Homo sapiens: one gene and its partners. The protein of the gene in region 1 purifies or fractionates together with the protein of each later gene. This does not show direct contact. Each region holds a gene or a part of one and is shown in the gene's direction. Other genes may lie near its edges.

Region 1 (4,201 bases):
TTTTCAGTAATTAAAATATAGCTATTTCACTGAAATATTTCCAGCACTGAGCATTAATACCTAGTTTGCATTTTGTTTACTAAAAAGGTTGACCAGTGTGTTGATTCTTCTTTTATCTGATAAAGTGTGAAGCAACTAGAGAACACTTATTTGTTCAAAGTAACTAGTCCTATTGATATACAAAAACCACAACAACTTCCCTGGATACTATTTTGAAATGAACACATCAATTTTTATTTGAATGTAGGTATTCTTCACACTGAAAAACCAAATCAAGATCCAAACTGACTTTATGTATGTATATATCTCTCAATGCAAGCAATATCAAACTTCATTTTCTCTACAAAAATGCCAAGTTAGTCTCTTTATAAAAAGCAGTTACAATCTGAAGACATTCATGTTACTTCCTTTGCCAGCTCCAACTCTGCCTTATTTAAATCTTTGCATTTCATGGGAAACATTAATTCTATCTATGGCAGAGCCACTTGGTTTGTTAGCAGACTGATTTGCTGTCATCAGACTGTGAGATGATTTTTTGTGTGCATCATTTTTTTCTTGACCAGCTTTTTGAAAATTAAGAAATGGATAGTCATGTTTTCTTCAGGTTCTCAAGTATTGTCAGCATCCGTAAATCCCTTCCACTCTGGGAAATACTACTGCTCCCTGCTTCCCATGGCTTCCACATCAGTCCAGGACTTTTTCTACACAAATTATTCTGGCTCTGCCTCCTTGACCTTGGTATTCTTAGCATTATTTTTCCCATTTTTTTGCAATGGAGTTTTTAATGGAGGTCATTGATTTCTGATCACAGACTTGAAGAGCTATGATCCACATTTCCAAGCTGCTTGGGGTCCCTGGTTTACAGTGTCTCCAGCATTCTGTACCTAGAGCCACATCTAAAGGGCAGGGAATCTCCAGTGTGGTTTTTTGTTTTTTTGTTTTTTGTTTTGGAGTCTTGCTCTGTCACCCAGGCTGTCTGACAAGTAGAAGACATATCCACTGTAGCAAGGAACACTATGGAGTATATGAGTTAGGGAAAAGAGACTGTGAAGGGAAGAGAACAAACATTTTGTAGACGTTTGGTGTTGAATATATGCTATGGAGGCAGTTTCTATAGTTTCATTTACTTCATGAGGTTTCATTTTTTCTTTTCTGAGATGGAGTCTTGCTCTGTTGCCCAGGCTGGAGTGCAGTGGTGTGATCTCAGCTCACTGCAACCTCCACCTCCCGGGTTCAAGCGATTCTCCTGCCTCAGCCTCCCTAGTAGTTGGGACTACAGGCGCCCACCACCACGCCCGGCTAAATTTTTGTATTTTTAGTAGACATGGGGTTTCACCATATTGGCCAGGCTGGTCTCAAACTCCTGACCTTGTGATCTGCCTGCCTTGGCCTCCCAAAGTACAGGGATTACAGGCATGAGCCACCACGCTTGGCCAATGGGTTGGTTCTTAACATGTATTTTTATTTATAAGAATGGGAGTATAATTTATTTTCAAATGATGATGAATCTCCTGAGTCACATTTTTACCCTCATTTAAACTATTGTCTTTTATATAGACTATAAGTGGATATAGAGTATGTTTTGCTGTATCTCAATTCTCTACCATTCCTAGCATATAATACATAATTTTAGGGTAGCCCTCCTGCCATTCCTTGTTAGCACTACTTTCAATAAAATGAGAGTATTAAATATTGGCAGAGTATCTGAAATATGAAATAATTTTAGGTTGCTTTGATCTTTAAAGAAGTTGCATTATATATTTTACTATTTAGATCCACACTGTTGATACAATCATACATATCACACAAAATTTTAGCTTTGAAATGCATTTATTTTCTGATTATTGGAATTCATCCTTCATGAAATTTTTAGAGTAGTGTTTTAAATTAAGCTCCAGAGTGTAACTGCAACCAAATAGCAATACATACAAGTGGTTTTCCATTCAAATTTACAAAAGCATTATTTATTAGTAATAAAAATATAGAAGGAATTCAGTTTTCCTTTTATCCCCAATTTTTTGCTTTTAAAAGACCATTTACTAACATCCTACTGTAGATATTTCGAGAGACAGATGAAAATAATAATAATAAAGATTATTATAGCCAAATCATCCAGTTAGCCAGGAGTTTGATGACTGGATATTTCAGAGTCTACTGCGGGTTTTAAATATTTTGTTAGCAAATGAATTCATCTGTATGATGAGAGACTTACATGTTTTATAGCTGAAAACCTAAGGAGTGACAATAGTACATGTGACATTCTTAACAGTTAAAAACTGAGTAAGTCCTGTTCATTAGGTAGGTGCCATGTGGAACAAGCTTTCACCTCATCAATGCATTTTGTTTTCAGAGAAACAGACTAATGATAGATTAATGGGAACATTTTATCAGGTTAGCAGTAACTATTTCAAAGGTTTTGAAAAGTATGCTAATAATTAACAATATCTTATATTAAAAGGGTCCAACACTAAGTTGGGACATTAGGTCCTAAGGCCAACTCCCTATTCTAAGGTCTTCAGAAAAGGTCCAGTTTCCTAAAACTCACAGGTCCAAGGAGTACATGTTATTTATTGAGAGTTCCTTCTGAGCACTGCACTGCCAACTTCTAAAGCAACCACCTAGAACTTCACTCCATAATGAGGAAAAAGTTTTCATCCTCTTTTTGGTAGTTTTAGCTTTATTTTGAAAAAGTAACGTGTGCTATCAACTTTGGGCAGATACAAAGGAAATCATTTAACCTGGTTTTATTTAACTATATTGCCTTATATGGGTCATTCTATATACTATTTAATTCATAGACAGAGACTGGAAAAGGAAAAGGAAACCTGAGGAACTCTGAAATATGGCAGTTATTCCACAGCGATATGTCTACGCAAAAGATTAGCCGTAATGTTAAAAAAGTAGATTAGAGCACAAATGCACAATCACCTGGAATCTTGGAAAAGTTTTTCTTTAGTATACATGGTTTCATAAAATTAAAGTTATTTAAGAGAATGAAGGGTCTTGGAAAAAAAATGTCAATTTTTGAAGGCTTTAAGAATTGATTAAATTGAGAAATTAACATGGCTGACTTTCAGGCCTACTTAATTATTTTAAATGACTAATTATGGTTAGGTTTAAAATACAGCAGTGCAAATTAAAAATTCAAATATGTAACAAAGCTCTCTCTTCAGTTCTTATTTAAAAAAAGATAAAACTAGGTACATAAAATTATATTACAGGAACTGTAACTATCCTCAGAGATTACTTTTTTTAAATATAGAAAGGTAACACGCTTTTAGCCACACAGCTAACATGAAAAAGAACTAACTAGAACACATATAACAAGTGATTTTTCTGCCAATAAAGACAAAAGACTATTTGTTGCAAAGTATTATTTTGTGCAAAAATTAAAGAGGAGAGTAGAGAGTAGAAAATTGAAGAGAGTAGAAAAGATGACTCATTAGCAGTATCCACTGTTTGTTAGGAACTGAATTTTGCCCCCAAAACCTATGTCACTATCAGCAATGGGAGTGGTGACAACTGGTGACATAAAAATAAGCATTTTACATTACTGTGAAATAGATAATGCCAGATCATTTCAATATAATGAAAAGCAAAAATTTACTTTTTAATTTTTTTTATTTTTCCATCTAAAATGGCAAAGAGAACATTTACTTTTGATCACTTAACAAGGACACACCCAGGAAATTTGATTTTCTCAACATTAGGAGGATGAGGGGAGTACAGATGGAAAAACAAAAGATAAAACACAAAAGGAGTACATAAAACATTGTTTAGTACAAATAATGAAAAATGACTTCATGACATTTTCCAATAAAAGTTATTTTTACAGATTTTGCAATGCTGTAAAAACCAGGTATATTGAAAGGGGTTATTTATAGGTTAAAAATAAAGCCATTGATGAGTGATAATCAGTTTTAACAGAGTTCACGCAATTATCTTAGCTGGAAAGCTACTGTCCCAAGTGACAAAATTTATGTCCTGACACATGATTACATATTAAATCATTTTGTAAAAGAAATGATTCTGTATGTGGGACTGACAGCTCTTGAGAAAGTGCTATACAAACAAGGTTATAGAAATGTTGAAGTGATTGATAATCTTAAAATACCATACAAAAATGTGTAAACAAAAGGATGGTTTAGAGTTGCAGGGCATTATAAAATATGTAATTTTAGTTAAGACTAATAATAATATT
Region 2 (4,201 bases), on another chromosome or scaffold:
CTAACCAAAGATGATAAACTAAGAGAAAAAATTATCACCCAGGGTTTCTAAGCCATTGTAATTGTTTTAATCTTGATTGCTAGTATAGAAGTTTATAAGATCATGAAGACTTTATCTTGAATATTCAAAATTAGAGGCTTTGGAGGAAATTTTACCTGGTTTTAATTTTAAACTTGGTGTGACACTTTTTTTTCTTCACCATAACCACTTTAATATTGACACTCCTAAAGTTGGAGCAGAGTCCTAAAATTTATAAACATGCAGTGCTTTGGCTGCAGGTCATGTCCTGTTCAGAACAGTGTCATAGGTTTTTATTTTAACTTTTCCATCCCCTGTCCCTCATATCTATGGAGAAAAATACCTAGACTGTGTTCTCAGTCTGTCCCATATCTCTCTTCAGATTTGGTGTTAAAATTATAGCTTCTAAGTAGGAGTTTGTTCTTATAGGCAGTATAAAAACTTTACCTCTTTAGCCTATGTCCAAAAGTTCACATACCACGTTTTCATGGCATTACATTCATTACTTTTTGTATAAGGATGGTATGATTGAAAAAAAAATCTGCCTTATTTTTATTTTATTATTTATTTTTTTGAGACAGTCTTGCTCTCTCACCCAGGCTGGAGTGCAGTGGTGCGACCTCAGCTCACTGCAACCTCTGCTCCCTGGATTCAAGTGATTCTCCTGCCTCAGCTTCCCAAGTAGCTGGCATTATAGGCTTGCACCACCACACCCAGCTAATTTTTGTAATTATTATTATTATTATTATTATTTTAGTAGAGACGGAATTTTGCCATGTTAGCTATGCTGGTCTCAAACTCCTGACCTCAGGTGATCCACCCACCTCGGCCTCCCAAAGTGCTGGGATTACAGGCGTGAGACACCACACCTGGCTTTTTTTTTTTTTTTTGCGACGGAGTCTGGCTCTGTCACCCAGGCTGGAGTGCAATGGTGCAATCTTGGCTCACTGCAACCTCTGCCTCCCAGGTTCAAGCCATTCTCCTGCCTCAGCTTCCCAAGTACTTGGGATGATAGGCATGTACCACCATGCCCAGCTAATTTTTGTATTTTTAGTAGAGGCTGGTCTCAAACTCCTGACTTCAGGTGATCTGCCCACTTCGGCTTCCCAAAGCATTGGGATTACAGGCGTGAGCCAGCATGCCCGCCCTCTTTTTTTTTTTTTTTTTTTTGAGACAGAGTCTTGGTCTGTTGCCCAGGCTGGAGTACTACAGCATGAGCTCAGCTCACCGCAACCTTTGCCTCCCGGGTTCAAACGATTCTCCTGCCTTAGCCTCACAAGTAGCTGAGATTACAGGTGTGCACCACCATTCCCAGCTAATTTTTGTATTTTTAGTAGAGACGGGGTTTTGCTGTGTTGGCCAGGCTGGTCTCGGACTCCTGACCTCAAATGATCCACCCGCCTCAAATGATCCACCCGCCTGGTACTCCCAAAGTCCTGGGATTACAGGTGTGAGCCACTGCACCTGGTCAGCCTTATTTTTCTTAACTAAGAGTAAATTGGCCCTGAAGAATAGTAATGTGTATATTATAAGCTTCTCTACAGGAAAGCCTCTTCTAATTCTTCTGTTCAGTCTTATCTATCATTCTTTGACTTAACTTGATGAAATAAAAAACATATGTCCTTGACTTACAGAGTGTGAACCAAAAGGTCTGTGGTTAGAATCCAGAAGAAATAGGGGTTTATCTTCAGAAACCTGGACTTCATTTGGTCCTCACCCCCATCCACATGCTTTAGTAACTATAGGGAAAAGGTATAGGCAGTAAAAAGCTTCTTGTCTGTGCCTTTCCTTTTACTTGGATCCATGCGGTGGCTTCTGAATGAGATATGAAAAGTGGCTGTGAAGGGGTTAGAAGAAGGTTAGGGAAAAAGAAAAGTTGGGGTATACAAATTTCTTCCCATCCCTGAGCCGGCTTAAGGGACAGCAAGTTCTGTACAGGTCTGGCCAAATGGGGAGATGGTATAAAACCCAACCAGGAAGGGGCATGGAGATAATGAGTCTTCCAGAAGGCCATTACTGAAGCCTGCAGACGTGTCCATGTAGAACAGTCTGGATAAGCTGTAAGCATTGTTGACCCCAGAATTGTGAAATTCTGAGCATGTTATCAATCTGGGATGCTCTTTTTTAGCGATGTCAGTTGCTGGAAATTTTTTCATCAGCTCTAGTCTGTCCTATTTGAAAGGACCAACTTGCCAGGTGCAATGGCTCATGTCTGTAATCCCAGCAATTTTGGAGGCCAAGGTGGGCGGACTGCTTGAGTCCAGGAGTTCCAGACCAGCGTGGGCAACACGGCAAGACCCCGTCTCTATAAAAAAATACAAAAATTTAGCCAGGCATGTTGGTGCATGCCTGTAGTCCCACCTACTCGGGAGGCTCTCTTGAGCCTAGGAGGTGGAGGTCACAGGTGAGCTGAGCTCTCACCACCACACTCCAGCCTGGGCAATAGAGCAAGACCTTGTCTCAAAAAAAATTAAGTTACATTAAAAATGAAAGAACTATTTCAAGAATTAAAGCTTCTAACTCTTGCTGTCTGCCTGAAATTGTAGTATATAAGATGTCAGCCCTACATCCTCTAACTACAGATGATGTAGGCAAATTAAGAGATAAATTAGGTAAATTTACTGCCAGTTGGATTGATGTGTGCTCATTGCTTGAGTTGCCAAATGTTTTTTGTGTTTGAGCTTTTCATTGATGTATTGTGTATCATGTGTTTGATAAAAGGGGCATGTAGTTCTAATAATGATAAAATCCCATGATGTGGAACTCCAGGAATTTATAGTGTTGTGTTGAATTGGAATTTCATTTAGTTAAAATGTGCCCCGTGCTACTCCCAAACTTCAGAAGATACAGATTGTACCCAGCCCCTCTGTAATCATTGAAATCAAGGTTGCTGTGACAACACACATCACCAACCCTTTCTTCTAACTGATATCTTTAGGTGAGTTTGGCAGGTTAGGTGGATTTTGTTTAGGACATGGGGAAAGACAAAGGAGTTAATTACTACTTCAAAGTAAGATAAAAATGACCAAAACTACGTTTTCTTCTCTCTGGCTGCTGAGTAAATGTCATTCAGTCACATGCCCAAGATTTGGGGTAAAAATTTTAAAGTCCTAGGTAGGATTACTCAATCTTGATAAATTTAAATGAGACTGCCTATTTCCATAGGTTCTCTAGCCTGGCATATTTTGTTTTATGATAAATGCTTATTTAAAGGTGCCTCAGTGGAATTTTTCCTGTGATGCAGATAAATTGTGGTTACTCATTATCCAGGGCCCTTGATCACTTAGCCATTTATTAGGTTCTAGAACAGCTTGGTGCTGATGGTCTCAGAGCCTCATAAAAAATAATTTCAGCAGTGAAAATCCTCAAATTACCTAACCTAGAAAATCAGTAGCAAAAGAAGGAACAACAGGAAAAGGAACAGAGGCCAGGGTGAAGATGCTTCTAGGAGCCAGAATTGGAGATGAACTTTTCACATATACATTTCATCGTGGTAGCCAATTCAGTTTTGTGGGATTCTCTGTAAATTTTCCATCTTTTCTCATTTCTCTGAAGTCCAGCAGCCTTGTGCAATCTTGCCACATGCCCATTCCTGGCAGCCCCTGCTCTTCCCATCTTTCTCTGAAGAACACAACTGCCCTATTCTGTGCAAATGACCAGGCAGCACCTTTTAGCCCCAAGAAACCAGACACATCCTCAAGGAGAGGCCAGGGTCCTGGGGAGAGCATCTCGGATTTCATTTGTAGAACTATCCGGGAATTGATTTTGATTTGCCTTTCCTAAAGAGGCAAATGATGGTACTAAAATTTGGTTTCTTCCTTCTAAGCCCATCATTTCACCATTTAGATTTTAGCTCAGAGGTTCCCACATTTTCTCAGTTCACAGTGCCCTTAATAGCTCAGTAATTTTTTCATCCGTCCCCAAGCCAAAAGAAATACCTAATAATTTAGTTTATGAAGTAATTGCAAGACAACTTGAAAGTAGTTGTTTGTATGGTGGTCAGCAGATGGCGCTGTGTTTCAAATTTAAAATACCCAGCAGTTAGCTGGATGATGTGGCAGGCAACTGTAGTCCACATGGACAGGCCGAATCCGCTACTCAGTAGGCTGGGGTGGGAAGATCACTTGAGCCTAGGAGTTCAAGGCCTGGATAGGGGAGTTGCTTGAGCCCAGGAGTTCAAGGC
Region 3 (4,201 bases), on another chromosome or scaffold:
CTCTGTTGCTCAGGCAGGAGTGCAGTGGCACTATCTTGGCTCACTGCGCCTGCACCTCCCAGGTTCAAGCAATTCTCCTGCCTCAGGCTGCCGAGTAGCTGGGACTACAGGCGCTCACCACCATGCCTGGCTAATTTTTGTATTTTTAGTAGAGAAAGGGGTTTGCCATGTTGGCCGGGCTGGTCTTGAACACCTCAGGTGATCTGCGTGCCTCGGCCCTCCAAAGTGCTGGGATTACAGGCGTGAGCCACCTCACCTGGCCTCAGATGAATTTAGAAACCACTATTTTTTTTTGAGATGGAGTCTTGCTCTGTTGCCCCGGCTGGAGTGCTGTGGTGTGATCTCAGCTCACTGCAAACTCTCCCGGGTTCAAGCAGTTCTCCTGCCTCACCTGGAACTACAGGCGCCACCACGTCTGACTGGGTTTTGTATTTTTAGTAGAGACGGGGTTTCACCACGTTGGCCATGCTGTTCTCAAACTCCTGACCCCAGGTGATCCACCTGCCATGGCCTCCCAAAGTGCTGGGATTATACGCATGAGCTACCCACGCCTAATCTTTATGTGACGTGTTTTTTTAAAAGTCCTAAACTTAGAGGTCATTGAATTTATTGGAGAAGGTTATTTTTGATTAATGGCGATTAGGCTAATTTTTTTCATGGTTTTAATAGAGATTTTTCGTTTTTTTAAACTTGATTTAGATGTATTGCTTTTGGAAATTGCAGAAATTAACAAACCGAGTTTTCCTAAGAAATATTTTTTCTTAATTTCTTAATTGAAAAGTTTTCTATGGCTTCCTTAATAGACAGTAGGACCTAGTTAATAGTTTAAAGAAGTTTCATAATTGTTATTAGAAATGTTAATTATGGGCCGGGTGTGGTGGCTCACACCTGTAATCCCAGTACTTTGGGAGGCCAAGGTGGTCAGATCACAAGGTCAGGAGTTTGAGACCATCCTGGCTAGCATGGTGAAACCCCATCTCTACTAAAACAATACAAAAATCAGCTGGGCGTGGTGACAGGTGCCTGTAGTCTCAGCTACTTAGCAGGCTGAGGCAGGAGAATGGCGTGAACGCGGGAGGCGGAGCTTGCAGTGAGCCGAGATCCCTCTACTGCACTCTACTGCACTCTGCCTGGGTGACAGAGTGAGACTCCGTCTCAAAAAAAAAAAAAAATAGCCAGGCATTGTGGGACACACCTGTAGTCCCAGGTACTCGGGAGGCTGATGCAGGAGAATCGCTGGAACCAGGGAGGTGGAGGTTGCAGTGAGCTGAGATTGTGCTGCTGCACTCCAGCCTGGGCAACAGAGTGAGACTCAAACTCAAAAAAAAAAAAAAGTTAATTTTGTAGTTAGAGAATATCTTCCTGCTCTACGCAAATTCCCTTCCAGCCTGAAATTATTTGTTTTTTTATTTTTTATTTAAAAAAAAATTTATTATTTTTGTGACAGGGTCTTGCTCCGTTACGTAGGCTGGAGGGCATTGGTGCGTTCACGTCTCACTAGCATCGACTGCCTGGGCTCAAGTGATTTTCCTGCCTCAGCCACTTCCAGTAGCTGGGACTACAGGTGCACACTGCCACACCCTACTGAGTTTTTATATTTCGTAGAGACAAGATTTTGCTGTGTTACTCAGCGTGGTCTTGAACTCCTGAGCTGAAGTGATCCCCCTGCCTCAGCCTGCCAAAGTGTTAGGATTACAGGCATGAGCTACTGTACCCAGCTGTGATTTCTTTTAAAGTGCTACTTTACAGCACTGTCACTTTTATTTTATCATTTTTAACTTTAAAGTTTTTTGTTTATTTTTATTTATTTTATTTTTTGAGATGAAGTTTCGCCCTTGTTGCCCAGGCTAGAGTGCAATGGAGTGGTCTCGGCTCACTGCAACCTCTGCCTTCCAGGTTCAAGTGATTCTCCTGCCTCAGCCTCCCAAGTAACTGGGATTACAGGCGCCCGCCACCACACCTGGCTAGTTTTTGTATTTTTTGTAGAGACAGGATTTCACCATGTTGTCCAGACTGGTCTTGAATTCCTGACCTCAGGTGATCCACCCGCCTCAGCCTCCCAAAGTGCTGGGATTACAGGCGTGAGCCACTGCGCCTGGCTTAAAATTTTTATTTTTTATATATTTTGTTTTTTTCTGAGACAGGGCCTTGCCCTGTCTCTTGTCCAAGTTGGAGTGCAGTGACATGACATGGCTCACAGCATCCTTGATCTCTTGCGCTCAAGTGATCCTGCCATTTCAGCCTCCTGCATAGCTGGGAGTACAGGCATGTGCCACCCCACTCAGCTAATTTTTTTTATCTTTTTGTAGAGATGGTGTCTTACTGTGTTGCCCAGGCTGGTCTCAAGCTCTTGGGCTCAAGTGATCCTTCTGCACATTTCCAAGGTTGTTTCACTCCTGTGTCTTTGCTGTCTAGAAGCTTTTCAGTGTGATGTAATCCCACTTGTCTGTTTCGGCTTTTGTTCCTTGTGCTTTTGGGGGTCATATCCAAACAAAGATTGCTGAGGGGCCAAATTTTAAATTGTGTATAATTTTAATGACTTCAGATTTAAATAGCTGCATTTGGCTTATGGAGTCTTTTGAGCAGCATGGTTTTAAAAAGGTTTTTGCCAAGTGGGGTTCTAATGGACACCTATGCTTGTAGAGCTCTGATGTGAGTGATCTGCTGTAGAAATTACTTCTTTTGATTTAGTATATTATTTTAAAATGCAGGTGATGCACTGGTTTCTTGGTGAGGGAAGCTGGTTTTTCCTGGCTGAGCTTCTGTAGGGTGGAGGGCTGGAGTCCAGGCTCTCGCTGGGCAGGGAAGGCAGCTTGAGTGTGCCTTCCAGTCCTCCTGAGGGCCCACATTTTTCTGGGATCACCTGTTTTCTGTAATGTGCATTGAACACACGGGCCAGGAGAAGAGGGAAGTAGAGGAGCTTTGTCCTCTGTGCTCATCCTCACAGTGCTGGGCGGGCCAGAAGGATTCAGGGCCAACCTTAGGGAGATGAAGGCCAGTTAAAATGTTTTATTGCCACAAATGGTGTCTTTTAAGAAATGAATCCATGTATTTTACACTTAAATGATATTAGGCTACTCCGGGCACACTGCCTATGGGGTAGCCCTGCTCTGCAAGGAGTAGTAAAAAAAAAAAAAAAAAAAAAGTTAAAGATACAACTTAGTTTCTCTGTGACTAGGGAAATCGTCCAAGTATGTATCAAATAATGCTAATTGGTACCTAGTTTTATATCTTGATTAGGCAACTTTTTGCTTAAAATTGTTTTGGAATGCATTAGTATTTCTACAGCTTCAGGCTGCTTTATCATCTAATACACAGTTGGATATTTAATATATAGTTTTATCAGTTTTTTTTAAACACTGTTTTTGAGAGGTCTGAGGAAAAAAAAGATAGTGTTACCAAAAATACTTCTATAGGGAAATACTGATAGAAATGTATAGGTAGCCTTGAAATTCTGAGGTTAATAAAAAAATTTGAATGCAGGTAACCTTTCATGGAGTTTGTCAAATTTTAAATTGTGTCTTACATCAGTGATGACTGAAGCAGTAAGGAGTGAGCTTGCAGCAAACAGTGGGGATTGTTGCAGCATCAGCACTTCAGCCAGCTCTGCAGGTTTCCTTGGAGACACGTGGATTTCTCTTTCTAGACCTTCAGCTATTTTCTTTTTTTTCTTGTTTTCTTGAGATGGAGTCTTGCTCTGTCGCCCAGGCTGCAGTGCAGTGGTGCGATCTCGGCGCACTGCAAGCTCCACCTCTCGGGTTCACACCGTTCTCCTGCCTCAGCCTGCCAAGTAGCTGAGACTACAGGCGCCCGCCACCACGCCCGGCTAATTTTTTCTATTTTTAGTAGAGACGGGGTTTCACCGTGTTAGCTAGGATGGTCTTGATCTCCTGACCTCGTGATTCGCCTGCCTCGGCCTCCCAAAGTGCTGGGATTACAGGCATGAGCCACCGCGCCCGGCCAGCTATTTTCATTTTGTTGTTTCTGTAATGCGTATTTGTATTTAATTTATATTCTAAATTTGTTAGTCTTACTGGCATTTGATGAAAACTAAAAAGGTAATTTTGAGATTTCAAGTACTGGTGAGAGAATGTCCCATAGCCTTGAGGGTTGGAATTGTGTACATTGACAGCATAGTGCCACGATACAGGCTAGCATGAGTTCTGGAGGCAAACTTGGATTCTTACTATTTTTAAAGATG
Region 4 (3,756 bases), on another chromosome or scaffold:
TGGGCAGTTACAAGACCGGTTTTCCAAGCATCCTTAAGTCTGGAGCCCCTGTGAGGAGCCTGGGAGCCCTTTTATTAATACATACATGTATTTGACAAATACACGCCCAGTGTAAACCCACGTGTTAGACTTGGCTGAAAAGAGAATACAGCTGAGTCCAAGACCTTCAGGAACTTATAGGCCAGAAGAGAGATGCCACAGCTACGGGGAGTTGTGAAGCACTGTGAGGTCCCAGAGAAGGAGCATCCCCTTCTAGCTGGGGGACCAGAGAGAAGTGGGTGGCAGAGGAGATGGGACGAGAGCATGGCACAGTGTGCACAGTGTATGCCCATCTGTGCAGGCAGGGAGCAGGGCTGCCGGGTACCTGCAGGAATGTGGGGGACAGGGCAGGAAGGTCTGCAGCATGATAAGGGTCTGGCCAGAGAGCCCTCAAATGTCAAGCTAAGGAGTTTTGACTACTGTGAGGGCTTTTGCAGCTGCTGGGTTTTGAACAGGGTGCAGACTTAACCAGAGCTCAAGTCAGCAGAGCTGAATTAGGATGGTAATAGGAACAGTGTGGAGACTAGACGGAAGGGGAGGAGACTGGAAGCAAGAAGCCCAGTTAGGACACAGTCATAGCCATAGAGAGGGGTGGCCAGGCCTGGAGCCATAGGCAAGCAAGCAGTGGGCTCAGACTTGAGTGCCAGCAGCAGGGCCTCCCGCAGAGCCTGGGAAAGCCCATCCGGGGCTCTCTGGGGGCTTGGCTGCAGCAGCACCCATAGGGCCCCAAGGCAGCCTGTTCTGCCCCTGGTAATCTACTTGAGAAGAGCTGAGCTGGGTGCGGTGGCTCATGCCTCCCAGAACTTTGGGAGGTCCAAGTGGGTGGATCACAAGGTCAGGAGTCTGATACCAGCCTGGCCAGCATGATGAAACACTGTCTCTACTAAAAATACAAAAATTAGCTGGGTATGGTGGCACATGCCTGTAGTCCCAGCTACTCGGGAGGCTGAGGCAGGAGAATTGCATGAACCCGGGAAGTGGAGGTTGCAGTGAGCTGAGATCATGTCACTGCACTCCAGTCTGGGCGACAGAGCGAGACTCTGTCTCGAAAAGAGCTGAGAATTCACTAGGCACAGCGCCTGGCACAGTGCACTCCAATGCCAGCAGGCCTCAGGCCAGCCACAGCACGCCCCAGACCATGCTGCGAGGGCTTCAGTGCACAGAGTTCTGAGAAAGCATTGGGGCTACAGTGAGCACAGGGAGGGCCCCAGGGGACCTCCCCAGGCAGCCCTTGGCTCCCAGGGTAGAATCTCTGTGGGCACCAAGGCCGTAGGTTGACTTTTTTCTTCTTACCTTCTGCCCCACTGTTAGAAGGCTTTAAAACCTGAAGATGGGGTTGACCCAGTACTCTGAGAGCCCTTCAGGTTTTCTCTCCTTCTGCCCTGGGAGCTGGAGCCGGGTGTCCCAGGAGGAAGTGGGGAAGGGCAGCCACCTTGAGGGATGGAGGGCAGTGCTTTATCAGGGGTTGTCCAGAAAAGCAAGAGAGGACATAATGCTGAGGAAGATCGTCTAAGACTGGGGCTGGGCGCAGTGACTCACCCATGTAATCCCAGCATTTTGGGAGGCCAAGGCAGGAGGATTGCTTGAGCCCAGGAGTTCAAGACCAGCCTGGGCAACACGGCGAAACCGTCTCTGCAAAAAGTACAAAAAATTAGCCAGGAGTGGTGCTTGCCTGTACTCCCTACTACTCAGGAGGCTGAGGTGGGTGGATCACTTGCACCCAAGAGGCTAAGCTACAGTGAGCCATGTTTGTACCATTGCACTCCAGTTTAGGTGACATAGCGAGACCTGGTCTCAAAAAAAAAAAAAAAAAAAAAAAAAAAAAAAAAAAACTATAGAAAGAACTAGAAGCATGAGGCTGCCAAGTACCAACAAGAAGGGTGAGAGATCTCTTGGGGCCTTAGATGCCACCAAGCTGTGAAACTGGCTGGCCTGGAAATCCAACTCTAATGAGGCAGGCAGAGAGAAGGGGATGGATGGGGTTAGGGGAGCAAAGAAAGTCTCATAAAAATAGCTGCTGGCAAGTACCCCAAAAGGAAAGAAAACTCACCATCAAAACCCCCAAAACTGCAAAATTCCAAACAGTAGCTGATGGAGACAAATCAGCAGTTCAGTGGAGCCATCCCTCGCAGCCTCAGAGCCTTGATCATAGTTGCCCACGGTCTTGGCCTGGTTCTCACCCTACCAAGAGCTGAGCAGAAAGCTGGAAGGGAGGTCCCACAGCAATAGAGCTCCACTGCTGCAGACCCCAAGTTAATCACAACAGGCACCGTTGACCAAGTGCCTGGGCTGTGCGTTAGCTCCTTTTCTCTCTCCAGCACCGTGCAAGGTAGATGTTAGGGATTTTTTTCAAGGTCACCCAGCAAGCAAGTGACAGCTGAGATTTGAGCCGAAGTCTTTTCTGTTCCCACACAAGGGAATGCTCAGGCATTTCTGCAGAGGGAGTGGCGGACAGATCCTTCTCTCCCTCCCTAGACCTGGGTCCTGTGCTGGTCAGTTGACTCTTTTCCGGGAAATATGGCATCAGGCATTGAGCCCCAGGAGAACAATAACTGGGGAATAGCTTGTGAAGACTGGGGGGTAAAGGGAAAGAAGAGAAGGAAACAGCCCTTCCAAGGAACAGTTAAAACTCTCAGCTTCTGACCAGGCACGGTGGCTCACGCCTGTAATCCCAACACTTTGGGAGGCCTAGGTGGGCGGATCGCCTGAAGTCAGGAGGTCGAGAGCAGCCTGGCCAACATGGTGGAACCCCATCTCTACTAAAAATACAAAAAATTAGCCAGGTGTGGTGGGAGCCTGTAATCCCAGCTACTCAGGAGGCTGAGGCAGGAGAATCGCTTGAACCTGGGAGGTGGAGGTTGCAGTGAGCCAAGATTGTGCCACTGCACTTCAGCCTGAGTGACAAGAGCAAAACTCCATCTCAAAAAACAAAGGCTGGGCACGGTGGCTCATGCCTATAATCCCAGCCTTTTGGGAGGCTGAGGCAGGCAGATTACCTGAGGTCAGGAGTTCGAGACTGGCCTGGCTAACATGGTGAAACCCCGTCTCTACTAAAAATACAAAAATTAGCTGGGTGTGGTGGCGGGCACCTGTAATCCCAGCTACTCGGAGGCTGAGGCGGAAGAATGGCTTGAACCCAGGAAGTGGAGGTTGCAGTGAGCTGAGATCGCATCATTGCACTCCAGCCTGGGCGACTAGAACAAAACTCCATTTCAAAAAAATAAATAAATATGGCCAGGCGTGGTGGCTCACGCCTGTAATCCTAGCACTTTGGGAGGCCGAGGAGGGTGGATCACCTGAGGTCAGGAGCTCGAAACCAGCCTGGCCAACATGGGGAAACACCATCTCTACTAAAAATACAAAAATGAGCCAGGTATGATGGTGCATGCCTGTAATCCCAGCTACTTGGGAGGCTGAGGCAGGATAATTGCTTGAACCCGGGAGGCGGAGGTTGCAGTGAGCCAAGATCACACCACTGCACTCCAGCTTGGGTGACAGAGCAAGACTCTGTCTCAAAAATAAATAAAATAGGCCAGGCGCAGTGGCTCACACCTGTAATCCCAACACTTTGGGAGGCTGAGGTGGGCAGATCACGAGATCAGGAGATCAAGAACATCCTGGTTAACATGGTGAAACCCTGTCTCTACTAAAAATATAAAATTAGCTGGGTGTGGTGGCGGGCACCTGTAGTTACTCAGGAGGCCGAGGCAGGAGAAT
Region 5 (4,201 bases), about 65 Mb from region 1:
TTGAATTTTGAATATTTTTCAGATGGTTTCCGTAAAGTAGTACATATCGACTCTGGAATTGTAAAGCAAGAAAGAGATGGTCCTGTAGAATTTCAGCATCCTTACTTCAAACAAGGACAGGATGACTTGTTGGAGAACATTAAAAGGAAGGTGAGCTATTGTGAACGTGAGCTAATTAGGGTATTGACCTGGAGTGTGCTTGGCCAAGATTTTTATTTCAGCTGTTGAAAGTACAGAAATGCACAACTGTTCCTTGTTGGGATGAATTAGGATAATAAAGTTTTACTTGTTTCCCTGTATTTTTTTCCTAAGTTAGCTTAAAAAAAAAAAAAAGTTTAAGTTCCTGCTAGAATATGAGCTCCCTGGAAGACTTTTTCTATAGTTTGTAATTGTACATCCAGTACCTACAATAAGTCTCTTCTAATAATATAAATATGCCCACATAGTAGGCATTCAGAAATACATTCAGTAATATATTTTTTAATGCATAATATCTTTTGGTAAAATAAGATATTTTACTAAATCTGTAAAAGGGGTGGACCATGAAAGAAAATGGCCTAGCATGAACCTTTTACTGCATAAATTTAATTAAATGTGGAATGTGGTAATAAAGAGGCTTGGGGGAAATTGCAAGGAGCTTGGCATAAGGGGAGAATAAAAGACTCTAAGATATTCCTGCTTGCGGAAACTTTTTAACATTAAAAAAAAATTTTTTTTAAGTAGATTATTCCTTGCGTTCTCTCCCATTGAGCTCTGAAGTTTATTCTTTCCCTAGCATTTCATCCCGGGCTTTTGGAACCAGATCTCACTTCCTGAACAGGCTACGAAAACCTCTTCTAATAGGGAAGCTTTGAATTACAATCATGGGTGTTTACTGTTTCTTTGATTTTCTAAATTTACTTTTTCAAAGGTTTCATCTTCAAAACCAGAAGAAAATAAAATTCGTCAGGAAGATTTAACAAAAATTATAAGTAGTGCTCAGAAGGTTCAGATAAAACAGGAAACTATTGAGTCCAGGCTTTCTGAATTAAAAAGGTAAAGTGTTATTTCCAAATATAATTTTAATCTGGGAATTGGGTATGTGTCTATGTGTGTTGAGTTTGGAGGTTGTCTGATGTTTTATTGTAAGTACTCAGATCACTTTGTTGAAGCCAAGATCAAAGGTCATTTTTCTGCAAGTATTGGTTCCCTTTACTTTGATTTGTGGCCACTGACTTTACTCTAATATTGTTTTAATTATGATAGTCAGAAGAAGATATAAACCTAAGCGTATCAAAACAGTTTGATGTATAAGTCTTAGCAATAAACAGTAGGTCTTTAAGATGATGTAGGAAATATGATTCTATTTAGGTTAGCTCATATGGTGCTCATAGACAATGAGGGCATACGACATAAAAACCCTGTATGTTACCCATCCTTTGTTTAATGGCTGTCTCTTAAGATTTCTTTGTGTGGACTCTTAGGAAAAAGTAGGACACAAAAAAATCGGAAAACGATGCAGGAGAGTTGCCATGCTTGATACTTATTTCGTATAGACTTGGAAAAGTGTTATTCAGAGCTTTTATCTACAGAAAGATGCTTCGTTTTATTTTACTACATTTCTTGGTTACCATTATTGTAACTTGCCATACTAATAACTTGTGTATAGAGTAGATAGTGTATTACTCTTCTTAGTAAGTAGCTGGAATTTTTCTGTATCCTAATAGGTGCCAAGGGCTTAAGAGTGGTTACTTTACATATTCTCTCTTCCATATCAGATGTGAGACGTTACTTTAGTTAATCATAACTCAAATATCTTCATTAAAAGAGGAACCTATAACTTTGATTTCTTTTTTAAATAAGCTTTAGGCTTTCTCTTCTTGTGTATTTAACAACTTGTTTACTGTATGTATCTTGTGTATACTAGCTGCTCTTTGACCCAGTTCCTTGGGACCACAGTTTCAGCCTTTAAAGAAAGTGATCCCCAAATCATTTTTTGTACCTTAGAGGGAACTTTCTTCTCCTTATCTTTTTGTTTGTTTGTTTTTGTTTTGAGACAGTCTCACTCTGTTACCCAGTCTGGAGTGCAGTGACTTGATCTTACCTCACTGCAATCTCCGCCTGCCGGTTCAAGCGATTCTTGTGCCTCAGCCTCCCTAGTAGCTGGGATTACAGGCATGTGCCAGCTAATTTTTGTATTTTTAGTAGAGATGGGGTTTCACTGTGTTGGCCAGGCTGTTCTCAAACTCCTGACCTCAAGTGATCCGCCCACATCGGCCTTTCAAAGTGCTGGAATTACAGGCACGAGCCACCGCACCCAGCCCTACTTATCTTTATTTAGTAAGCAGATAACAACATTTTTTAATTTGAATCAGAAAAATACAGTAGTTATTCAGTAAATATTAAAATCTCCTTTGGTATACCCTTATATGTAAATCTCCAGTTCCTTTTATATTAGTTTGGATTAAAGAAGATGACTTGTGGAGAATAACAAAAGATGGAAAATTAAAGCATTTAATAGGTATTCAGCATTCTCCGTGCTGCGAACATTTAACAACATAATGCAGTTTCAATTAAAAAAGGTGAACGAAGAAGAAGCTATTCATATTTGGCAAGTTATTAGTTTATTATTGGATATGCTTTTTCAGAATAACATTTTAGTGGTTTACATATGCTGTTGTTTGAGATAGATCTTAAGATAGTTTTAGAATCTGACAGACTTTAGTTTGATTTCAACACTTACCAAATTATTTGTATGATCTTGAGCAGTTCCCCTCAATTCTCTGTACCTCAGTGTCCTCATCTATAAAATAGAGATGATGACTTATTTCTTGGTGGTTTTTAGAGAAATTTTAAATAAGTAATACACATAAAATGTCTAGCATAGTGCTTAGAGTATAGTAAGTGCTGGGTATATATCACTACCCTTTATTTCCTAAGGTGATTAGGAAGGCCTGAATTCACTTGGTAACCACAGTTGAAAGATTAGCTTATTTTTTTTTAAGCAAAAAATAATGAGCCAGATTGTCAAAAGTAGTAAATTGCCAACTACTATATTGATGTAGGCATATGTCTTAAGTTTCTGTGTATCTATTGTCATGAGTAGCAGATACTACACTTAGGAAGGAATGATTCTGGTGCTGGGTGCGGTGGCTCATGCCTGTAATCGCAGCACTTTGGGAGGCCGAGGTGGGTGGATCACCTGAGGTCAGGAGTTTGAGATCAGCCTGGCCAACATGGCAAAACCCCGTTTCTACTAAAAATACAAAAAAAATTAGCTGGTTGTGGTGGCACATGCCTGTAATCCCAGCTACTTAGGAAGCTGAGGCACGAGAATTGCTTGAACCCTGGAGGTGAAGGTTGCAATGAGCCGAGATCGTACCACTGCACTTCAGCCTGGGCGACAGAGCAAAGCTACACCTTTTTTTTAAAAAAAGAATGATTCAGGAGTTGTGTCAAGGTAGTTGTCATTCCTATGTAATTGAACCAAAGTTTTCTTGGTCTCATAAATACATATAGTAAAAACAAGTGTAGTTCAGTTGTCTGGTATTCTTAATTAAAGATACTATGGTCTGGTTTTTTGATTGATTTTTTTTTTGTTTTGTTGCTTAATAAATTATAACATAGTGAGAATGAGTCCCTTTGGAAGGAGGTGTCAGAATTACGAGCAAAGCATGCACAACAGCAACAAGTTATTCGAAAGGTAAGAAGCTCTTTTCCCCAGGACCATAATTTGCATTTGTTTAATGAGTACTGTTTGTGACCCAAAAAGGTCTTTATTGAGTGTCTGTGATTGATCTTAGTTTCTTACATATTGGATGCACAGATAGAAGTAAAAAATGAAATGAAATTAAGCCAAGTGTTACACATTTTTAATAAAAAATTTCTCACTAGCTAAAGATGGTTATTCCATACTCGCAGATAATGTCTCAGTAGCTTTTAGTAAATGATCTTTTGCCTAATATAACAATTTTGAAATACTTTATTTTTATGAGCATAATGAATACACTACCAATTTCTTTTAAAATTAGAAAACATAGCCTTACTGGTTTTTTTTGTTGGTTTTTATTATAAAAGGCATAGTTAAGGTCTCAGAAGATAAATGACAAATATTTTCAAATCAGTTGACCAAATTATGAGTTCAGAAAATGATTTCTCAATGTATGCTGTTATTAGTCTGTGGAGAAAAGCAGTTAACATAGTGTTGTAAAATGAATTTTAG
Region 6 (4,201 bases), on another chromosome or scaffold:
CTTTTTTTAGACTTCAAATCTCAACCTGAGCCATCCCCAGTTCTTAGCCAGTTGAGCCAGCGACAACAGCACCAGAGCCAGGCAGTCACTGTTCCTCCTCCTGGTTTGGAGTCCTTTCCTTCCCAGGCAAAACTTCGAGAATCAACACCTGGAGACAGTCCCTCCACTGTGAACAAGCTTTTGCAGCTTCCCAGCACGACCATTGAAAATATCTCTGTGTCTGTCCACCAGCCACAGCCCAAACACATCAAACTTGCTAAGCGGCGGATACCCCCAGCTTCTAAGGTGGGCATTTCATCATGAAGTCACCGTCCTAAAGCTGGAATTATTTTTACATTCAGCTCTAGTGGGATACTAAGTTTTGGAAACTGGGGTACAGTGTTTTTCAAGCACATAGCTTATTGATTGCATAATAAGGATATGGCCATTTCTGAGTGACCAGACTAGTATTAGAGGGAATGGGTTTGTGCTGAGAGCCACAGATCCTTATTTCAAGTACAGATTTGAAGATCTGGCTCAGAGAACTGTTGTTCTTGAGGGTTTTGCTGTATCCCATAGTTGGAGGATGCATGGTTCCTTGACCAGGTGATACTTTCATCATTGGTGAGTCCCCAAAAATAGAGTAGTCAGCTCAGTGTTCACTTCCCACCCACCATCACAACTCCCCCGCATTGCTCTTAGATGCAGGTGGTGATATTAATGCCAACCATTCCTGTTTAACTTTTAATTTCTCCTTTTTTTTTTTAAATGAGACAGGGTCTCGCCGTGTTGTCCAGGCTGGTCTTGAACTCCTGGGTGCAAATGATCCTCCTGTCTTGGCCTCCCAAAGTCCTGGGATTACAGGCATGAGCCACCATGCCCAGCCAACTTTTAATTTTTCTTAGCTTGTTTTTTTTCTTTCTCTTTTTAGAAAAGTCTTAGCCTATTTTCTCCTTGTTTCTCACTCCTTCTTCTTGCCAGTATTGCCTGGGAACCTAAATGCTTGTTTGGCTCTGTTATAGGCCTTTGTGACCTGGAATCTGTGACCTCTGTTCCTGACACGACAGCTTTGCTTTTTCAGATCCCAGCTTCTGCAGTGGAAATGCCTGGTTCAGCAGATGTCACAGGATTAAATGTGCAGTTTGGGGCTCTGGAATTTGGGTCAGAACCTTCTCTCTCTGAATTTGGATCAGCTCCAAGCAGTGAAAATAGTAATCAGATTCCCATCAGCTTGTATTCGAAGTCTTTAAGGTACTGAATTTAGTCCTTTGTTATGAAGCAAAATAGACCCTAAGAGAGATCAACTGGTGGAAAAGAATACATCCTGTGGTAATAGCTATCCTCAGTGTTTATCCAGACCTTCCATCATCTCCATAAGAAACCCCATACCTGTAGCAGACAGTCTCAGTTTCTTCATTGCCCTGCCCCTTAGCAACCAATAATCTGTCTCTGGATTTGCCTACCTGGACATTTCATATAACTGGAATCTTGGAATATGTGGCCTTTTATGTCTGATCTTTCACTTAGTGTAAGTTTTCGAGGTACACCCATGTTTAATGTATCATTTTTATTGCCAAATATTTCATTGTGTTGATAATACCACATTTTATTCATTCATTAGTTGGTGGACATTTGGGTTGTTTGCTCTTTTTGACTATAGTGAATGATGCTGCTATGGACATTTGGTTTCAAGTTTTGCATGCTTTCAGTTCTTTGGGATGTATATCCCAGGAGTAGAGTTGCTGAGTCATATGGTAACTTAACCATTCAGGAAACTCCCATACTGTTTCCACTGTGGCTGTAGCATTTGACATTCCTACCAGTAGTCTATGAGGGATCTAATTTCTCCACATGTTTGCAGCAGTCATTTTCCTTCAGTGGAATATTTTATAAATACAAAATCTCAGATTTTAGTTTTCTTTTCTTTTCTTTTTTTTTTTTTTGAGATAGGGTCTTGCTCTGTTGTCCAGGCTGGAGTGCAGCAGCATGCTTGGCTCGCTGCAACCTCTGCCTCCCAGGCTCAAATGATCCTCCTGCCTCAGACTCCTGAGTATCTGGGATTACAGGCGTGCACCACCATGCCCAGCTAATTTTTAAATATGTTTTGTAGAGACAGGGTTTCGTCATGTTGCCCAGACTGGCCTCAAACTCTGGAGCTCAATGAATCTGCCTGCATCAGCCTCCCAAAGTGCTGGGATTACAGGCATGAGCCACCGGCCTGGCTGACTTTGTTGTTGTTGTTGTTTTAGTTTTTTCACATTCCAGAGGCAAAACCTGATATTTGTTTAAGTTTCCTTTTTAAAGATGGTCTCAAACACCTGGATTCCTTAAAGAATCTTCTTATTTTTTTTCTTTTTTTCTAGACAGAGTCTTGCTCTGTCGCCAGGCTGGAGTGCAGTGGCGCGATCTTGGTTCACTGCAACCTCTGCCTCCCGAGTTCAAGTGATTCTCCTTTCTCAGCCTCCAGAGTGGCTGGGATTACAGGTGCCCACTGCCACGCCCTGCTAATTTTTGTATTTTTAGTAGAGACGGGGTTTCACCATGTTGGCAAGGATGGTCTCGATCTCCTGACCTCCGGATCCGCCCACCTCTGCCTCTCAAAGTGCTGGGATTACAGGCGTGAGCCACCGCACGCAGCCTAAGTATTCTTAAAGATGTCCCCCTATCTCTCAGTTAAATTAGGTGGGTCTCATTTGGGATAATAAATTGATGCAGTAGTTGCATCTCGTGAAGCTGTTTATGTTTTTTTTTTTTTATGAAGCTATTTAAAGTAACAAAATTATGTTGAATATTTTTGACTCTTTTCAGTGAGCCTTTGAATACATCTTTATCAATGACCAGTGCAGTACAGAACTCCACATATACAACTTCCGTCATTACCTCCTGCAGTCTGACAAGCTCATCACTGAATTCTGCTAGTCCAGTAGCAATGTCTTCCTCTTATGACCAGAGTTCTGTGCATAACAGGATCCCATACCAAAGCCCTGTGAGTTCATCAGAGTCAGCTCCAGGAACCATCATGGTAAGTGGTATTTTAGTTTTTTTCTCAGAAGATGTCCGTCTTATTTGGAAATTAATGTTTGGTTAAATTATGCTTCTTGGATATGATTTTATTTTACAAATTGACTAACCTTTTGAGTAGAATCCTTATAGTTCATTGAGTTTGTTTATAGTGGGCATCTCTAGCACCCATGCTCTTGAGTGTGTGGATAGATCTGCAGGTTCATACACTTTGTGGAGAAAACCAAGCATGCGTGTAGTATGAGCACTTTGGCTGTAGTACTGGGTACTTCTACATTGTCTGAAATATCTCTGAATATTTCATGTACTGCTTTCTCTCTGATTGCCCCATTTGCTTTGAATGTATTTGCTTCTTCATCACTGTTAGGTATTTTTGTGTTAAAATTATGTATTTTCTACCTAGTTTTTGTTAATAATACTGGACTATAGATAAAGGAACCAGATCTATTTTTGATATAGTTTTAAAGTTTTACCCTTCTAGATTCTTGCTAACTGCATATCTGATGGTCATTGCCAGTTGTATTGCTTTCTGTTAAGTTGAGATGTACCAATATCTCCTGAGAATCTTAGAAAGAAACTTAAAAAAGAACAAGTATACACATTTCATGTCACACTAGTAATACTTGAACATCATTCTGTCCCAGGAAATTAAAATAATATGGATGACACTACAGGCATACCTTGGAGATACTGCAGGTTGTTTTATACCACTGCAATAAAGAAAGTTGCGCTAATTTTTTGGTTTCCTAGTGCATATAAAAGTTACAATGTGGATATCTTAATTAAAGATACTTTATTGATAAGAAATGCTAAAAATTAATATGTGAGCATTCAGTGTGAGCAATTCTGTGGATTGTTTGTTTTTTGGGGGAGTACAGGTTCTTGCTTTGTCACCCAGGTTAGAGTCCAGTGGCGCGATCACAGCACACTGCAGCCTTGACCTCCCGGGCTCAGTGAGTCCTCCCACCCTAGCCTCCCAAAGAGCTGGGACTACAGACATGCATTGCCATGTCTGGCTGACTTTTGTATTTTGTTTAGAGACGGGGTATCACCATGTTGCCCAGTCTGATCTTGAACTGCTGGGTTCACGCAATCCACCTATCTTGGCCTTCTTCCAAAGTGCTGGGATTATAGGGTGAGCCACTACACTGGGCTCTTTGTTCCTTTTATCACTTGACATTATTTTGTAAATATGACATGA
Region 7 (4,861 bases), on another chromosome or scaffold:
AGCAGGGTCCTAGATATTAAAAATGACCATTCCTGTAAACCATCAAGCCACAAATCAACAAGCTTAATCACAAAAGTTTCTTGAGGGAACAAAGTTGAAGTAATATCCATTGAGTCATTGTGGAACTATCTGTACTTGTGGTTGATTAGCCAGGTAAGCTGGTTTTTCCTCAGTTTCCTCACCTGTTAAACAAGAGGCAGAATGATGTTCTCTCTAAAACACTTCTTGCTTTGAAATACTATTACTCTAAATAAGACTTTGGAGAAACTCACAAAATACATCCTTGTTAACTCTCAATAAGCCCAAACAATATTCCAGGACCCCACAAAACCAGAAAACTAACAGGACCCCTTGTAGACCAGTCTCTTTGTGCAACGTAGGGAGAAAGGGCGGGGGGGACTAAAGAACCTCCCAAAAGGTATTAAAAATAGCAACATGTAATTATGAAAAATCTTGTTCCACATTAGGTAGCCACATTCAAGAAAAACTGTTGGAGATCTACTATGTCCAAGGCACGGTTTAAGTTATTACTGTTCAATTTTGAAATTATTATTGTTAACTTGTCAGTAATTTCTTAAACCTAAACTGGTGAAACTCTCCTTGGGTGGACATAAAAGTAAAGCCATGGCCAAGGAGGGAGACAGTCTACAAATAAACCAAAAATAAAATACAAGTGACATCATTAAAGGAAAAAAGCCAACACACTGCACAAAGATCAAAGACAAAACAGAGAAACATGTTTGGTTAATACTGGGCTTTGAGTATTTCATGTGCCTGAGAGGCCCGTCCGTCCATCCACACCACACTTCTTCACCATGCTGTTGCAAACCAATGACAAGTTCAGCTTCAGCGCGGACAGGGCGCAGGGCGCAGACCCTGTGCATATCCCAGAATCCCGGACCCACTGCCACTCCACTCTGGGAAGGAAGAAGGCGCTCCCCCTTGGGTGACTGTAAGATAAAGCAGCTTCTTCGATCTCTTTGTCCAATAAGAAAGAAACGTTGGCCCATAAAGAAAGAAAGAAACAAATAAATAGGAAAGGTGTGAGAAGGAAGGGAAGCTCCTTTCTTTTCTGTTTAAATTTCCCGCACCCTTTTACCTCCCCGCCTTCTCAAACGGTCTTTACTTTGAGCAGCAGAGACCCGGACCGCTCAATACCCGGCTATCCCTGGGAGGGTACTTGGAAAGTAGGCGGGACAGGCCGGATGAATAATTCGGTGTCCGACTTTTCCTGCCTGCGGCGCAGTCCCTCCCCGGCTTCGTTACTCGAGTGCACACGCGGCCGGGCTCTCGGCCCTCGATTGCTTCAGCCTATCACCCTGGGATGCCGCCTGCCGCTGCCGCCGCCGCCGCCGCCGCCACCGCCACCGCCACCGCCACCGCCACCGCCGTGGCTGCCGGGTTTGTGGGATCCGCCGCGGAGCAGGAGCCAGAGCTGTGGCCGGAGCTGTGGCCTGAGAGTCAGGGGGCGGGCAGGCTCATTCCAGAAGTGGGGGCCGAGGACAGGCGGGCTAGAACCCGGGGCCACCGCCCCCTACCCCTCCTCAGGCTGAGGGAACGGGCACTCGGAGCTTCTGAGGCGGCGGCGGCGGGAGCCGGTCAGAGGGGGCGGCCCCTGGCGGCGACGCCCCCAAGCCCAGCCCTGCCCGGCCCCGCTCCATCCCCAGCCAGAGCCTGGTCTGACCGCGAGAGACGCCGGCGGGGCTGAAGAAGGCGGCTCCGAGGAGGTGGGAGGGCGAGCCTCCCCTCCCGGGTTCTTCTGCGTCCTCTCCCGGGAGGGACCCACACACACCTGAGCCCGGACCCACCCTTGGTCGGGGCCACGCTGGATCCTCCTCCCGGCCTGGGTCCCGCCCGCCGACTGCAGGTGGGCTGCATCGCCCGAGCCTCGGGCAGTGGGCGACGGGGAAGGAGGTGAGAGGTGTCCGCGCCGGCTGCCGCTCGGGTCCCTGCCCTCGCTGCGCGCTCTCCTCCTCCCCTTACCGCAGGCAGGGCGCGGAGCCGCGCGCCAGCCCGCCCCGAAGCCGCCGCCTCGTCCCCCTCCCGCCTCGGGGCACCATGGAGCTCTCTCCGTCGTCCGGAGGAGCCGCGGAGGCGCTGTCCTGGCCGGAGATGTTCCCGGCGCTGGAGTCCGACTCGCCGCTGCCCCCGGAGGACCTGGACGCGGTTGTCCCAGTCAGTGGAGCCGTCGCCGGTGGCATGTTGGATCGGATCCTTCTGGAGTCCGTGTGCCAGCAACAGAGCTGGGTCCGGGTGTACGGTAAGGACCACAGGCCGTCTTAGAGGCTGGTGTTTCCTATTTTTGCTTGGGCTGAAATTCATTCCCTAAGTCACAGGCTCATTCCCAGTCCTCATCCGTGCTAGGTCAGTTTCCCACATCCCTTTTTGTTCTGGGGGTGCATTTCTGACAAGTTTCTTCAGACTATCACTTGGGCAGGGATGTCACTCAGTATGGTCTTTGGACCTCTTCAGACACCTGCAGTAAGTTTAATGCGGGAGTTGGGCTATCCAAGACGTAATTCTTAGGCGATTACTTCAAGGGAACAGCCAGGCAATCAATCTTCAAGAAGGTATGATGGAAAAACTCCATGAAACCAAGTGAATGGATTTTCGTCTCTTTTTATTGTTGAATGAGGCAAGACTGGAAACCAAGATATTATGAAAAAGCAGAGGATAAGCTAATGAATGAAAAAAATGCAAACTATGTATTTGGTGGGAGCAAGACTAATCTATAACCTCTGCCTGAACCTCACTCTCTCTAAAAGCAACCACTTATTCCAACGGGTGTGGATTGTTTCAGATTACACTATTGTTTCTGAATCTCGTTGTAAAGTGACTGGGTTGCCACTCAGCAGGTTAAAAGTGATGAACACACTAAAACTTTCCCTTTCTGCATTCCTGGTAACCACCTCTTTAATTAAAACTGAATGATGAGATTCTATTAGGGTGAGCCTTGTGGCAGCACTAAAACCATGCTGGTTTTGAAAACTCATAGCTTAAGGATTTATAGCCTGGCATTCAGGACTGAGCTGTGGCTTTCCAAAATATTGAAACGGCAAGATGTTTATCGCCTAGCTCACGTGACTGCAGAAGACATTAGTAACGTGGCTGAGTATAAGATGGCAAATTTGAAGCACCTGGGATCAAACACAATGTTAAGATGTTATCCTGCAGTCTTGTGCATCTAAGCCTGTAGTGATCAAGTACCTTATGTTTTTTTCTTTCATCTTTCTGAACAGGGTATATGCTTACTATTCAAGAGTGACCAAGACTTAGGTTTTTTTCTGTGTAGTTCAGTTGATTTGAAGACTTAATGTCCATCGCAAAGATCATAGAACTAGGAGTCCAGAGATCTCAGTTCTTGTCTCAGTTCTACCACTAAATGGCTATGGGATTTGGGGCAGATCGAGTCACATTTTTGGCTTGTGATTCCTCATCTGTAAAGTGAGTGGATTGGATTAAATCATCACTAGTGACCCTTTTAATCATAAAAATCCAGGAATTCTTCTTATAACCAGTTCTTAAGGATTTGTGTACCACTTTGTATTTTGCTGGCTGTTTCTTGATGTTACTCTACGTACCGGAAGATTTAAAGCAAAGGAGTGGGAGACGATGCAAGGTCACCCAGTTTGTTCTCAGCAAATTAGATTAAAAACTTTGGTGCCTGATTTTCCGTCTGCCTGCTAAATCCCACTTAGCTGGTCATTTAGAACAAAGGTTGGTGAGAATCTGAAAGTGCATATGAATTAGAGTATATTGTAGTTACAACGTTTTCCCATTCTATCATCTTTCTCTCCTTACACACTTCTTTGGCATACTGTTTATTTGTGTGATGTTAGAAATAGGGCCATGCTATTCTAAGAATACATGTATATGATAATTCGGTATTTCAGTATCCAAAACAATCTGGGTTCTCTGGACCTAGTGTTAACTATCGTTCTTCATTTGTAAGGACATAAAAGTCTACAAATGTATGTTGTTTTGTAGTCCATTCCTAGGGGTTGATTTGTGAAATATATATTGTATATTTTGTGTGTGTGTGTGTGTGTGTGTAAGAGAGAGAGAGAGTGAGAGCAAGTTTACATTATGTTTTTTTTCTTTCGTCCTTCTGAACAGGATATATGTTTATTGTTCAAGAGTGACCACGACTTAGAAGTTTTCTTTCTGCGTGGTTCAATTGATGTCAAGACTTCATATCAGACATCACAGAAATGCATGGTATGTATATGTGTGTGACACACACATATACATACCATGCCTTGCATTTTTGTGACCAATTGCAGACTTACCACTGCATTGTAACTTTTTTTGTTTTCTCTATCAATTAACCAGAAGTTGTTTTTATTTATTGTTTAGTATTGCTACTTTCCTTCCTCTGAGGCAGCTCATCCTGGATACTATTTTGTTGTCTTTAGTTTATGTAAATATTTCAGAACTATTGGAATGACTCTTGGCTATGTCCTTAGCTAGTTTTAAGTTGCCTATTGTATGAACAGGGTGTATGTTTGAAAACTTTGAAGTAAAAACTTTGAAATAAAAGTAATAGAATGTAGAAAAACAATTTGGAGAATACAGAATTTTTGTTTTTCTTGTTTCTTGTCTGTGTGTTCAAAACCTTCGTTGTCTTGGATCACCTAGGTTCTTCTCACAATTTAAAGAGACTTTGATGAGTGTAGTCTAACATGTTTCAGGGAAATCTACAAATTGGGAACCTAGTCTAGAGGATACAACTAGAAGCTTAGAGTATTGGTTTCATTCTGGCTTTGCCACAAGTTGGTTGTCTAATTCTGGGCAGGTAGTTTTAACTCATGGCCTCTAGGTTTCAGCATAAAAGTGGAATCTGGAGTAATTGGTATCTGTG

The links.
Region 2: the proteins of BAG2 (region 1) and DNAJC13 purify together in Homo sapiens (affinity purification with mass spectrometry; 3 studies listed by BioGRID and IntAct, with this or other methods). This does not show direct contact.
Region 3: the proteins of BAG2 (region 1) and DNAJB6 purify together in Homo sapiens (affinity purification with mass spectrometry; 4 studies listed by BioGRID and IntAct, with this or other methods). This does not show direct contact.
Region 4: the proteins of BAG2 (region 1) and AMBRA1 purify together in Homo sapiens (affinity purification with mass spectrometry; 3 studies listed by BioGRID, with this or other methods). This does not show direct contact.
Region 5: the proteins of BAG2 (region 1) and HSF2 purify together in Homo sapiens (affinity purification with mass spectrometry; 4 studies listed by BioGRID and IntAct, with this or other methods). This does not show direct contact.
Region 6: the proteins of BAG2 (region 1) and UBAP2 purify together in Homo sapiens (affinity purification with mass spectrometry; 3 studies listed by BioGRID and IntAct, with this or other methods). This does not show direct contact.
Region 7: the proteins of BAG2 (region 1) and RASAL2 purify together in Homo sapiens (affinity purification with mass spectrometry; 3 studies listed by BioGRID and IntAct, with this or other methods). This does not show direct contact.

What each region holds. Positions count from the first base shown.
Region 1 is NC_000006.12:57,185,181-57,189,381, forward strand, and holds part of BAG2 (BAG family molecular chaperone regulator 2), read left to right. Parts: 3' UTR 1-4,201. UniProt on the Homo sapiens protein: Co-chaperone for HSP70 and HSC70 chaperone proteins. Acts as a nucleotide-exchange factor (NEF) promoting the release of ADP from the HSP70 and HSC70 proteins thereby triggering client/substrate protein release.
Region 2 is NC_000003.12:132,532,166-132,536,366, forward strand, and holds part of DNAJC13 (dnaJ homolog subfamily C member 13), read left to right. Parts: intron 1-4,201.
Region 3 is NC_000007.14:157,343,193-157,347,393, forward strand, and holds part of DNAJB6 (dnaJ homolog subfamily B member 6), read left to right. Parts: intron 1-4,201. UniProt on the Homo sapiens protein: Has a stimulatory effect on the ATPase activity of HSP70 in a dose-dependent and time-dependent manner and hence acts as a co-chaperone of HSP70. Plays an indispensable role in the organization of KRT8/KRT18 filaments.
Region 4 is NC_000011.10:46,398,589-46,402,344, reverse strand, and holds part of AMBRA1 (activating molecule in BECN1-regulated autophagy protein 1), read left to right. Parts: intron 1-3,756. UniProt on the Homo sapiens protein: Substrate-recognition component of a DCX (DDB1-CUL4-X-box) E3 ubiquitin-protein ligase complex involved in cell cycle control and autophagy.
Region 5 is NC_000006.12:122,412,615-122,416,815, forward strand, and holds part of HSF2 (heat shock factor protein 2), read left to right. Parts: intron 1-22; coding exon 23-150; intron 151-910; coding exon 911-1,035; intron 1,036-3,606; coding exon 3,607-3,682; intron 3,683-4,201. UniProt on the Homo sapiens protein: DNA-binding protein that specifically binds heat shock promoter elements (HSE) and activates transcription. In higher eukaryotes, HSF is unable to bind to the HSE unless the cells are heat shocked.
Region 6 is NC_000009.12:33,940,449-33,944,649, reverse strand, and holds part of UBAP2 (ubiquitin-associated protein 2), read left to right. Parts: intron 1-10; coding exon 11-285; intron 286-1,060; coding exon 1,061-1,230; intron 1,231-2,787; coding exon 2,788-3,001; intron 3,002-4,201. UniProt on the Homo sapiens protein: Recruits the ubiquitination machinery to RNA polymerase II for polyubiquitination, removal and degradation, when the transcription-coupled nucleotide excision repair (TC-NER) machinery fails to resolve DNA damage. May promote the degradation of ANXA2.
Region 7 is NC_000001.11:178,092,435-178,097,295, forward strand, and holds the start of RASAL2 (ras GTPase-activating protein nGAP), read left to right. Parts: upstream 1-1,669; 5' UTR 1,670-2,058; coding exon 2,059-2,260; intron 2,261-4,861. UniProt on the Homo sapiens protein: Inhibitory regulator of the Ras-cyclic AMP pathway.